4 separate regions of the Homo sapiens genome follow, and all the other regions are linked to region 3. Evidence: fine-mapped expression QTL. A gene starts in region 3. Each other region holds a variant in brackets. All regions are shown on one strand. Distances are from middle to middle.

What was found.
Region 1: its variant is fine-mapped to the expression of CNOT9 in lymphoblastoid cells (TwinsUK, PIP 0.91).
Region 2: its variant is fine-mapped to the expression of CNOT9 in whole blood (TOPMed, PIP 0.97).
Region 4: its variant is fine-mapped to the expression of CNOT9 in blood mononuclear cells (TOPMed, PIP 0.93).

Annotation. Positions count from the first base shown.
Region 1 is chr2:218,893,318-218,895,996 of GRCh38, forward strand. WNT10A (Wnt family member 10A) reads left to right here. Exons shown (of 4, transcript NM_025216.3): 4 at 1-611. It overlaps LOC105373882 (a long non-coding RNA gene), which reads right to left. Exons shown (of 3, transcript XR_923916.3): 2 at 1,388-1,601; 3 at 1,160-1,252. Among named protein-coding and RNA genes, the nearest start is that of WNT10A, 14 kb to the left of the region's middle. RefSeq lists an enhancer at 1-16 and a silencer at 1,990-2,284. The variant C/T (reference allele first, on the strand shown) is at 1,190.
Region 2 is chr2:218,425,348-218,428,028 of GRCh38, forward strand. It overlaps VIL1 (villin 1), which reads left to right. Exons shown (of 20, transcript NM_007127.3): 4 at 268-464; 5 at 2,618-2,681. Among named protein-coding and RNA genes, the nearest start is that of VIL1, 7.6 kb to the left of the region's middle. RefSeq lists a silencer at 442-659. The variant G/A (reference allele first, on the strand shown) is at 1,011.
Region 3 is chr2:218,567,393-218,570,073 of GRCh38, forward strand. It overlaps CNOT9 (CCR4-NOT transcription complex subunit 9), which reads left to right and starts at 1,447. Exons shown (of 8, transcript NM_005444.3): 1 at 1,447-1,586. The coding sequence starts at 1,563. It overlaps USP37 (ubiquitin specific peptidase 37), which reads right to left and starts at 959. Exons shown (of 26, transcript NM_020935.3): 1 at 786-959. RefSeq lists enhancers at 802-1,429, 1,430-2,057, 1,852-2,041 and silencers at 922-991, 1,082-1,141.
Region 4 is chr2:218,434,680-218,437,360 of GRCh38, forward strand. VIL1 (villin 1) reads left to right here. Exons shown (of 20, transcript NM_007127.3): 14 at 1-26; 15 at 610-755; 16 at 1,803-1,947; 17 at 2,445-2,633. Among named protein-coding and RNA genes, the nearest start is that of VIL1, 17 kb to the left of the region's middle. The variant A/C (reference allele first, on the strand shown) is at 1,453.

The DNA of each region.
Region 1 (2,679 bases), 330 kb after region 3:
CTGGCCCTCTGAGGCTTACGGTCTTGGCAAGGCAGCATCGCCTTGGCTCTTGGGAAGAGGAGATTGGACCACATGATCTTATAGGAACCCCTCAGCTCTGAGGTCTGTGATCGCCGGACAGTCCAGGCCTGTCTGAACCCCACCACTCACTTCTGTGGGCTCTAGGACTGACTGGGTTCTTCCTCCCTCCCCGAAGCCCAGACAGTTCAGTTGGGCTGGGGGTTGCTCCACACCCTAAAACAAGCCTCAGCCAGGCAACCCGTCAGTCTGTCTCCATCCTTTCACCCCTTCCCTGGAGATGGGAGGTGGGGAATGAATGGAAGCTGACGGGCAGAGAGAGGAGGATTAAAAAAAAGAAATAGACATAACTGAGCTGAAGTAATTCCATAAAGGGCCCAGACAGCCTCCTCCACCATTCCCTTCATCATTCATTTAACAAATATTTATTTTGCACTCTCTTTGCGGCACTCTGGGGGCGGTGGGGTGCGTGGGGGTGGCAATGCAAGGCACTGAGGCCACAGATGTGAGTAAGCGAGACACAACACTTGTCCTCTTGGAGGTTACATTCTTGCTGGGGGGAGGCATGGGCAATAAACAAGTAAATATACAAACAAGGTCATTTCAGACAATGCTGTGTGCAGGCTGCTGGGTGTAGGGGGATTTATGGGGAGTGGGGCTCCTCAGACAAAGCCACTGTTTTTTCAGGGAAGGCCTCTGTGAGTTGTGATACCTATGCTGGGACCTGCATCATAAGCCATGCAAAGAGTATGGGTAAGGGCATTCCAGGCAGAGGCCATGTGAAGGCAGAAAGTGTGAGCTGAGAAAGATCTCTGCCTGCTGGAGAAACAGCAAAGGGGCCATTGTGATTGCAGTGAAGAAATCAAGGGACAGACTAGCAGGAGAGGTGTTCAGAGGGTGGGCAAAGGTCACATCGTGTGTCTCTCTAAGCCAAAGTAAGGAGTTGGGGTTTTATTAAAGAGGAATGGGAACCTTGAGATCCTTAAGCAGGGGAGTGTCCTGGTCCAAGTCTCACATGGATCGCTGATGGGGAACTGGCTGAAGGGGGATGAGGTGACAGCTGGTAAGCCAGTGAGGAATAACAACCATCTTCTAAGTCAGAGATGGGGCTTGGACTGGTTGTAAGCAGTGGGGATGTCGAGAAGGGCTCTGGTGCCAGAGCTCTAACCGC[C/T]CACCTTGTGCCTGAGCCCTCTGCCACAAGCCAGGACGAGTGGCCGTGCCCAGCAGCAACTGTCTGCAGAGACAGGAGGCACTCAGAGGAGTAATCCTGGGCAAGACCCAGCTCAGCCCAGCCCAGCGCCCCGGGGAGCAGGTGGGGCCAGGAGGCGCGGCTGGGAAAAGGGTGGCGGAGGAGGGCCCGGAGACTCACTGTCTGGATTCTGGTCTCTCTGAGTCCAGGCAGGGTATGTAAGTAAGGTGCAGGGGGCACATTCTTCCTGGGCCTCTTGTGCTCCCAGATCCCCATATCAGGGTGCTCCTTAGCAGGTCAGCAATCCTTCCCCACCCTCATGTCCCTGTGAGGACACTGTTGAGCAGTTTGGGTCCAGTGTTGCACTCTCCTTCGCTCTCGGATCTGATGTTTTCTGGAACAGACCCTCAAGGAGGAGGGCGGTGGAGAAGGGAGTGAGGTCAGGATCTCAGGGAAAGAACACTTTACCTACTGCATCCAGGCCTCTTGCTGCTCACACTTGAGGATCCCGCTGGCTGCCTCAATTTACCCTAGAATAGCACCCCTCTTGATGAACCAGGCAAGGATGAAGACTTGTTCCTTTCCCCAGTGATCAGCCAGCACAAATCCTCCATACTTTCCACCCCTGATCCATGTCTCCCTACCCCTGAGTAGAAGTGAGAAGGAAATGGGGGCCTCTTAGTGATACACCCCAGTAGGCCCACCAGCTGGAAGATTTGCCTCCATGAGCTTGCCCCTCATCTCCTTCCCCTCCAAATGCCAGCAGCTCGCAGGCATGCCTGTGGCAGAGGGGCTTCCGAATGCTCAGCTCTGCTGCTTCTCTGGAGGACAGGGTTTCTTTCCCCATCCCCCAAAAGACAGCCCCACAGGCGGGCGGGTGAGAGTCCCCCAGGAGGAGGGGTAGGCAGGAGCAGCCAGACACACCTGCCTCATTCCTTTCCTCTTGATCACCTAGGAGAGAGCTGTGGGGGCTGGGTTTTCCACCCGCTTCCTCCCTCCCATCCCAGGGAGGAGGAGAGAAGAGGTGGGGGAAATGGAGGCCTAGGGTTGAGGGGGTGCTGCCATGCCCAGCAGTGTCCACTGCAACATTAGCCTTGGCCTAACCCTCCTCTGCCTTCAAGGCTTAAGGAGGATGACCAAGCTGGGGGAGGGGAGACTGAAGATGAGAGGTAGAGGATCAGGACTGGGATAAGAAGGTGGGAGCAGCCATGCTGCAGAGCATGTGTTGAATGCAGAGAGAGGGGTGGGTGGTTGGGTGGGGCAGGGGGCTGGACCCGGAGTTGTAGGGAGGACACATGTTTTAATGACATAAGTCAAGGTGATCTGATATGTGTTAGCCTAACTTGTGAAGCCCAGAAGCTGATGAGTTCTGGGACCAAAGGTGACGCCCACGGTTGAAAGGGGTTGTATGGGACTTGATAAGGGACCTAAATTAGGAAAATGTGGAGGTGATGGAGGGTGGGAAAATGGGG
Region 2 (2,681 bases), 140 kb before region 3:
TGGGATTACAGGCGTGAGCCACTGTGCCTGGCACAAGCAAGTTATTTCTGAGATGAGGCAAGGGAGGCCCAGAGAGGAGAAGCCATGTCTCAGAGAGTCAATGGTAGAGCTGGGCCATGACTCAGGGCTCCTAACCGCCAGCCTAGTGCACTTGCCCTGTGCCACGCTCCCCCATAGTCCTGGACGGCACGTGTGTGGGAGGTCACACAGAGCTGGAGGGGCTGTGGGAGCCCAGGGTCTCGGGTACACTGGACACCTTTTCCCTAGATCCACAAGACAGCCAGCAGCCTGTCCTATGACATCCACTACTGGATTGGCCAGGACTCATCCCTGGATGAGCAGGGGGCAGCTGCCATCTACACCACACAGATGGATGACTTCCTGAAGGGCCGGGCTGTGCAGCACCGCGAGGTCCAGGGCAACGAGAGCGAGGCCTTCCGAGGCTACTTCAAGCAAGGCCTTGTGTAGGGAGGGTGGGCTGCAGGCCGGGGGAATGAGGATGAGTGGTAGGGATAGAGATGTTGGGGCTGAGCTGAAGAGGCAGGGACACCCAGACCTGTTCAGGCCTGGGAAGAACACTTGGAGCAGGGGGAGGTGACCTGGGGCGGGGAAGGGACCCTGAAGCTGTGGGGGGAGGCACGAGGGGGACCCTCATGAGTTTTTGGTGATTGTCCCTCACCTTTCCACTCCCTAACTCTTATTTCTGCCACTGCTCTGTCCTTGGTCTGGAGGCTGTTCTGAAATTCTATAACTCTCGTGAATCTCTGTAAATCAGCTCCTACTTGAATGTCCTGGAGAGCTCAGTGCCTAATCAAGCCCCCCAACTCTGGCCAACGGGCAAATGGCTGCTCCCCCATCTCTAATGCAGGCCTATCACACTAAAAACCAAGACCGACAGCTTTTCTTTTTCTTCCTTTTTTTTTTTGAGATGGAGTCTTGCTTTGTTGCCCAGGCTGGAGTACAGTGGCACAGTCTTGGCTCACTGCAAACTCCGCCTCCTGGGCTCAAGC[G/A]ATTCTCATGCCTCAGCCTCCCCAGTAGCTGGGATTACAGGCACACACCACCAGGCCTGGCTAATTTTTGTATTTTTAGTAGAGACAGGGTTTCACCACGGGCAGGCTGATCTCAAACTCCTGACCTCAAGTGATCCATCTGCCTCAGTCTCCCAAGGTGCTGGGATTATAGGCGTGAGCCACTTCGTCTGGCCCCACCTCAGCCTCTTGAGTAACTGGGACTACAGGCCCGAGCCACCATGCCCAGCTAATTTTTTTTTTTGAGACAGAGTCTTGTTCTGCCGCCCAGGCTGGAGTGCAGTGGCGCGATCTCAACTCACTGCAAGCTCTGCCTCCCAGGCTCACGCCATTCTCCTGCCTCAGCCTCCCCAGCAGCTGGGACTACAGGTGCCCACCACCACGTCCGGCTAATTTTTTTGTATTTTTAGTAGAGACAGGGTTTCACCGTGTTAGCCAGGATGGTCTCAATCTCCTGACCTCATGATCTGCCCGCCTTGGCCTCCCAAAGTGCTGGGATTACAGGCGTGAGCCACCATGCCTGGCCAGCACTAATTTTTTAATATATATATTTTGTAGAGACGAAGGTCTTGCTCTGTTGCCCAGGCTGGTCTCATACTCCTGGGCTCAAGTGATTCTCCCACCTCAGCCTCCTGAAGTCCTGGGATTACAGGCATGAGCTACCACTCCCAGCCCAGACTGCTGGCTTTTCTATACAAGTTGAAGTTCTAGCTTAGCTTTCCCCAGGAAAACACACACTCTGGAGCTGAGTTGTTACTGACCTGTAGGACAGGCTGAGGGCTCTCTAATTAGCCACAGTTCCCACTCTTTTTTTGTCTTGCTCCTCTCTTCCCACGCTATGGCAGTAGTCCACTGCCATGGGCACTGGAGTGGCACCTCTCCATTCTTTTCTTTTCTTCCACTTTGATCCCCTGTCCTCAGGATTCTGTCCCTATTTATTAATACATTTCCTTTTTTTTTTTTTTTGAGATGGAGTCTCACTCTGTCGCTTAGGCTAGAGTGCAATGGTGCGATCTCGGCTCACTGCAAACCTCCGCCTCCTGGGTTCAAGCAATTCTTCTGCCTCAGCCTCCTGAGTAGCTGGGATTACAGGCACCCGCCACCATGCCCAGCTAATTTTTTGTATTTTTAGTAGAGATGGGGCTTCACCATGTTGGCCAGGCTGGTCTGGAACTCCTGACCTCAAATGATCTGCCCACCTCGGCCTCCCAAAGTGCTGGGATTATAGGTGTGAGTCACCGCACCTGGCCTATTAATATATTTCCTACTCTTAATATATCATGACCCTATCTTTGCAGGCCTCTCCACAGGGCAGGGACTAGGGCAAGACGAGTGAAGATCTAGGGTGCAGACTTTAAGGTTGCTCTCACTGTCAGGGTCGTGCAAGGGCATGCCACAGGCAGACCTTGCACTTTCAGGACCTGACAGTGAGTGACTCCCTAAAGTTTGCGCCCTCAGCACCTCATTGACCTCGCCTACTCCCACCCTGGCCCTCACGTGACCCCAGCGTGGCAGCCAGGACCTGGGAGAACAGGGGCCAGGCACACCTCCCAGCCCACTTCCTTGGGTCAGCTCACCTCTCTTCTCAGGATCCGGAAAGGGGGCGTGGCTTCTGGCATGAAGCACGTGGAGACCAACTCCTATGACGTCCAG
Region 3 (2,681 bases):
ATCCATGGCTTCAATTACTATCAATATGGCAGATGACAAACACATACACACACCGCGCACATTTACGTACGCAGCCCAGAACTCTCCTAAGATCTCCAAACCCACTATATCCAACTGCCTACTTGACATTCCCTCTCAGGTATCTCTTCCAGTTAGACACTTGTCAGGAATTGCCACCTCAATAAAGGAATTTATACAGAGCTGAAATTTTGAGAGGAATACCCCAAAACCACTTTAGGACAACTCTTCAGGACACAGGATTTTATCATCAATCATCATTTCCTTTCATGGATCATGACTTAAAATAGTTACATCTAACAACCTGATCTGGCGGCTAGAAATGGGCGCAAGGAAATGCACAACAAAAATACAATTCATGTTTTGCAGTGAGGACTGGTCAAGAGGAAGGTGAAGATGGTCAAGAGAGTGAATGAGTATCATGTCCAAGGCCTGGTGGATGTGCCGTAACGAAAGTCACCTGAAGAGACAGCAGGCCCTGTTAGAAGGTAAGAGGCGAACGACAACAGCCCCAGAGAAAAGGGGCCAGGTTTGAGTTTCGGAGGGAGCGAGTGGCAGTGGAGACCAAGTCAAAGGAGAGGTGGAAGCCGGGGCAGTGCACCCAAAGGTAGTACCTGTGAGGCTGGGGGTGCATCGAGGGGTTGTGGGCGGGCTGAGTAGCAGCAGGGCGAACTCCAGAGGAGTGAACGCCGAGTGGGCGGATCGCACAGAAGGAGGAGGAGGTAGGGAAAACGGCTCAATTGAGAAGCTACCCCGGCCCGCCTTACCTGCGCCGAGGGTCCGGAGCCCCCGGACAGACCCGCGGAAAGCACGGAGCCCGCGAGGAGTGGGAGGAGCCGAGGGTAATGGAAGTAGGGATACCGAACCCAAAGGAGGGAGGCCGCTAGCTACCCCTAGTCAGGGAGAGCGGCTGATGGCGGGAACTGTGACCACACGCAAACACGCACGCACGCACGCACACTCGACGCGACCAGACAGGCGCGTGCGCGTCAGTCGAAAACTCCGCCCCTCACACGCCCTCGCCCCGCCCCGCCAGTACCTAGAGCGGCCTAGCCCGGGCAGCCCCGCCCCTGCCGTGACTGTAGTAGGCACGCGCACTTTCCACCTCACCCGATTTCGACGCCCCCCCACCATTTCCCTCCTACGCAACCCAGTCGGGCATGCGCAATAGTTGTCTTGCCGGGACTGTCCATCTTTTCCCGCCGTTCACTGGCTTTTGGAGGAGGGTCAGAGTTCACGCCGCTCTCTGGAAATAACTGCTCAAAGCCAGAAGTTGCGGGGACTAGTGGTCGCGGACGTCCTTCCGGTCCTAAATCTTAAGGGGCAAAGGACATACTCTGGGACTGTTAACTAGGCCCTGGAGGCGGGAAGAGGATGTGTGGGTGGGGTCAGGGGTGAGAGGTCAGAGGGCCGCGAAGTGGGCGGAGCGAGCCGGAGTCGGATGGCGGCTACGGCGGCTCATTGTTTTCCGCTGCAGGGGTGCTGAAGGGGGGACGCGGGTCGGACGCGTCCGGCTGTGGAAGAGAGCGGCGGCCGCTCACAACATGCACAGCCTGGCGACGGCTGCGGTGAGTGGCTGGGCCCCCAGGCTTGGAACCAGAATCCTTTCTCAGACCCACGTTTCGGCCTTCTCTCCTAATTCCCGGTGTCGGGTCCCTAGTCTGATTTTTTTCTGCCCTCAATCTCCAAGGCCCCGGTTCCCCTCCTCGGCACGCTTTGGTTGTGGTGGAGCCGGCCCCTATTTCCTTGCCGGACGCCTCTCGCGGCCTTCAGCGCGACCCATCGCGTTCTTTGCGGGCGCCGGGGCCTGGTCCCACGCCCGTAGCAGGCCATTCATTGATTTATTGCGCTGACCAACAGTTTCAGGGCGCCAGTTGTGTTCTGGGCGCCGGCGTCGATGAGGGGAATTCCATGGTCAATCTGACGCGGCCCCTGCTCTTAGAACTCACCACGTCGCAGCGGGAAGGAAATGGCTTCTAGTTCAAACCACTTGCTTTATTTATGGAAAACCTGAGGCCCGGAAAAGTGCATAATTTTTGCATCTGACTTAGGTTCTCTGCATTTAAAACTTTTCCTCGACACATCTCGTTTTACCCGCGTGATCTTTTAACAAAAAAGAAAGATAGTGTAATTCAGCTATCCGAAGTAATCCTACTTCTCTTGGCATTTAAATAAAATCTAGACTCCTTGCCATAGCCTGCACGGCCCTGTATGATGTGGTACTTAACCCACGTTTATAATCTCGTTTTATGTCTCTTGCTCCTAAAGCTTCAGCTACTCTGGCCACCTAACCCTCTGCAACGCGCTTATTTTTCTCCAAGATGCACTTTGTGGTCTCTATGCCTGGAGTGAATGTTCTTCTTATCCCTCCTCCTTTACATACACAGCATGAGTGTAATTGGTACCTCTTCCTTGAACTCTCCTTCCTCTCCTTAAACTGTTTATCCAAATCCATCTTTCTTCAGGTCTCTGCCTAAATCGGTCTCAGAGTGGCCTTCCCTGACTATCCTCTTCAAATTAGTTCCGCAGCCTCTAACTTTAGTAGAGTACCCTTTACAGCCCTGATCCCCGTGTAATTATTGTATTCGTTTATTTGTTGTCTGTCTCCTTGAGGGCAGGGACAGGGATCATGTGAGCCCTGTTGACGTGGTTTCCCCGGTGCC
Region 4 (2,681 bases), 130 kb before region 3:
CTTGCTGCTATCTATGGTGTGGGAAGGTGTGTTCAGGGTCTAGAGGCCTCCCCATCCGCAAGTGGGTCCTGGGAGTCCCCCAGTTTCGCAGCAGCCCTAGGTCAGGGCAGGAACCCCTGGCCAACTAAGTTGTGCCTGCTCAATTCTCAGCCGCCTCTGGAGCCCAGTCTCTCCCTCCTCAGTAGCTCTGGGTCTATCCTTCTGCCTCATCAATGACCATCCTCAGATTCTCTGCCTCTCTGTCGGAGTCAGTCTCTCTTGTTCTGTTTCTCTGGCCACCTCCATCTGTCCCTGTGTTGGTCTGTCTTTATGTCTTGGGCTCTCTCTCACTACCCTGAGCCTGTCACTGCCTCTCCTTTGATCTCTGTAAGAAGAATGCATAGCCTCTTGGAGTCCCTCTCGAACCTTGAAAAGACTCTCTAGTTTCTTCTGCTATTCTTTGGAGTGTCAAGGACAGAAGAAAGCATGGAATTGTCCCTGTGTGGCCTGTATACACAAGGTCCTGACCCAGGAGAGCCCTCTTTGACCCCTGAACTCTGGGCAGTGAATGTAGTAGGAGGGTGGAGGTAGGGGTGGCACTAGAAATTAGCCAACTCTTTTTTTTCCTAGGGTTGTAGCGGGGACGAGCGGGAGATGGCCAAGATGGTTGCTGACACCATCTCCCGGACGGAGAAGCAAGTGGTGGTGGAAGGGCAGGAGCCAGCCAACTTCTGGATGGCCCTGGGTGGGAAGGCCCCCTATGCCAACACCAAGAGGTAACTCTCAGGTCCCTCCGCCTCCAGGTTACCAAGGTGGGGGAGCCGCCCAGCATCTCCATCCCTACACCCAGAGCCTACAGCAGGCATGGACTGAGGACTCTGTGTGTCAGGCACTGTGCCAGACCCCCAGGGCTACAAGATGAATAAAGGGCAGCCCATACCCTTGGAGCCTCTTGGCACAGGGGCTGTGTCTGTGCTGCTCACTACAGTATGCCCAGGACCTGGTGGGGTATTTCCTTGGCAAAGGGAATTCCTGGCCATAGGAGGCAGCTCAAAGCAAGGGGCAGGGCTAGAGGTTTGCCTTTCAGTAACAAGATGCCAGAGGCCAGCCTGCTTTTAGGTCCTGACACAGGCCTGGGATGCTGAGGAGCCCCAGCCACAAGCCCTCTTTCAAATGGTTTTGTTTTGTTTTTGTGACAGAGTCTCGCTCTGTCAACTAGGCTGGAATGCAGTGGTGCAATCTCAGCTCACTGCAGCCTCTGCCTCCGCCTCCCAGGTTCCAGCAATTCTCCTGCTGCAGCCTCCTGCGTAGCTGAGATTACAGGCGCCCACCACCGTGCCCGGCTAATTTTTGTATTTTTAGTAAAGACAGGGTTTCACCATGTTGGCCAGGCTGGTCTTGAACTCCTGACCTCAGGTGATCCACCTGCCTCAGCCTCCCAAAATGCTAGGATTACAGGTGTGGGCCACGGTG[A/C]CTGGCTCAAATGGTTTTTCTAGAGAATATCCATGATCTACTAGTCCCTAGTTCAAAAGCAAAAGGGCATGTACTGTAGTAGCAGTAGGAGGGATGGAGGGAAGATATCAGGAAGAACTTCCTAACAAGGCTCTGCAAAAGACACTGGAATGCATGTCCAGAAAGCAGTGACAATTTCTTCCTCAGAGCACTCTTGGAATGAGAGGGGACCCTTTTATCAATCAGAAGATAGAGCATTTTGCTGGAGATGACCTTTCTATGCCAGAGTCCCTTCCTCAGAGTTCTGTGTCCTCAATTCTCCTTTTGCCACACCTTCCTTCTGCCAGTACAATCTTCTCTCCATCCTGCAGACTACAGGAAGAAAACCTGGTCATCACCCCCCGGCTCTTTGAGTGTTCCAACAAGACTGGGCGCTTCCTGGCCACAGAGATCCCTGACTTCAATCAGGATGACTTGGAAGAGGATGATGTGTTCCTACTAGATGTCTGGGACCAGGTAGGACCAAGGGCCTGGGGACCCCTCTTCCCAGCCACCTCAATCCCCAGGGCCAAGAAAGAGTGGCTTTAAGGTTAGGTAAGTGTCAATGTTTTCTTGGCCCTTACATAATTTCTCCCTGGAAATGGTATGAACACCAGAAGTGTAAGAAAGAAGGAAGGTGGGGAGGAACATGCTCAGAGGGGCTGCAGGGAAGAACGTATTCTCTCCCAAAGTCCTATTTATTTCACATGGCAGCAGGAGTGTTTTTGAGAATCCTGGGCTTTGGACAGTCTGGGAGACACACATTTGCAGAATATCCAAGTACAAGGCATCTGTCCAACCTTCTAATTTCCCAGATACAAATTCAAGGCCAGATGATGCCTGCCCTAGGTCATTTGGCTGGTAGTGGTAGAGTCAGGGTCAAGGTCAGGGTTTCACTGTTGGACAACTGAGGCAGAGCCCTGTGGGCCAGGGAGGACAGGAAGGATGGACTGATCCCCTGGGTTTCTCAATAGGTCTTCTTCTGGATTGGGAAACATGCCAACGAGGAGGAGAAGAAGGCCGCAGCAACCACTGCACAGGAATACCTCAAGACCCATCCCAGCGGGCGTGACCCTGAGACCCCCATCATTGTGGTGAAGCAGGGACACGAGCCCCCCACCTTCACAGGCTGGTTCCTGGCTTGGGATCCCTTCAAGTGGAGTGTGAGTGGCCTCATCCCAGCATGTCCTTCTCTAGCCCTGCCTGGAGAT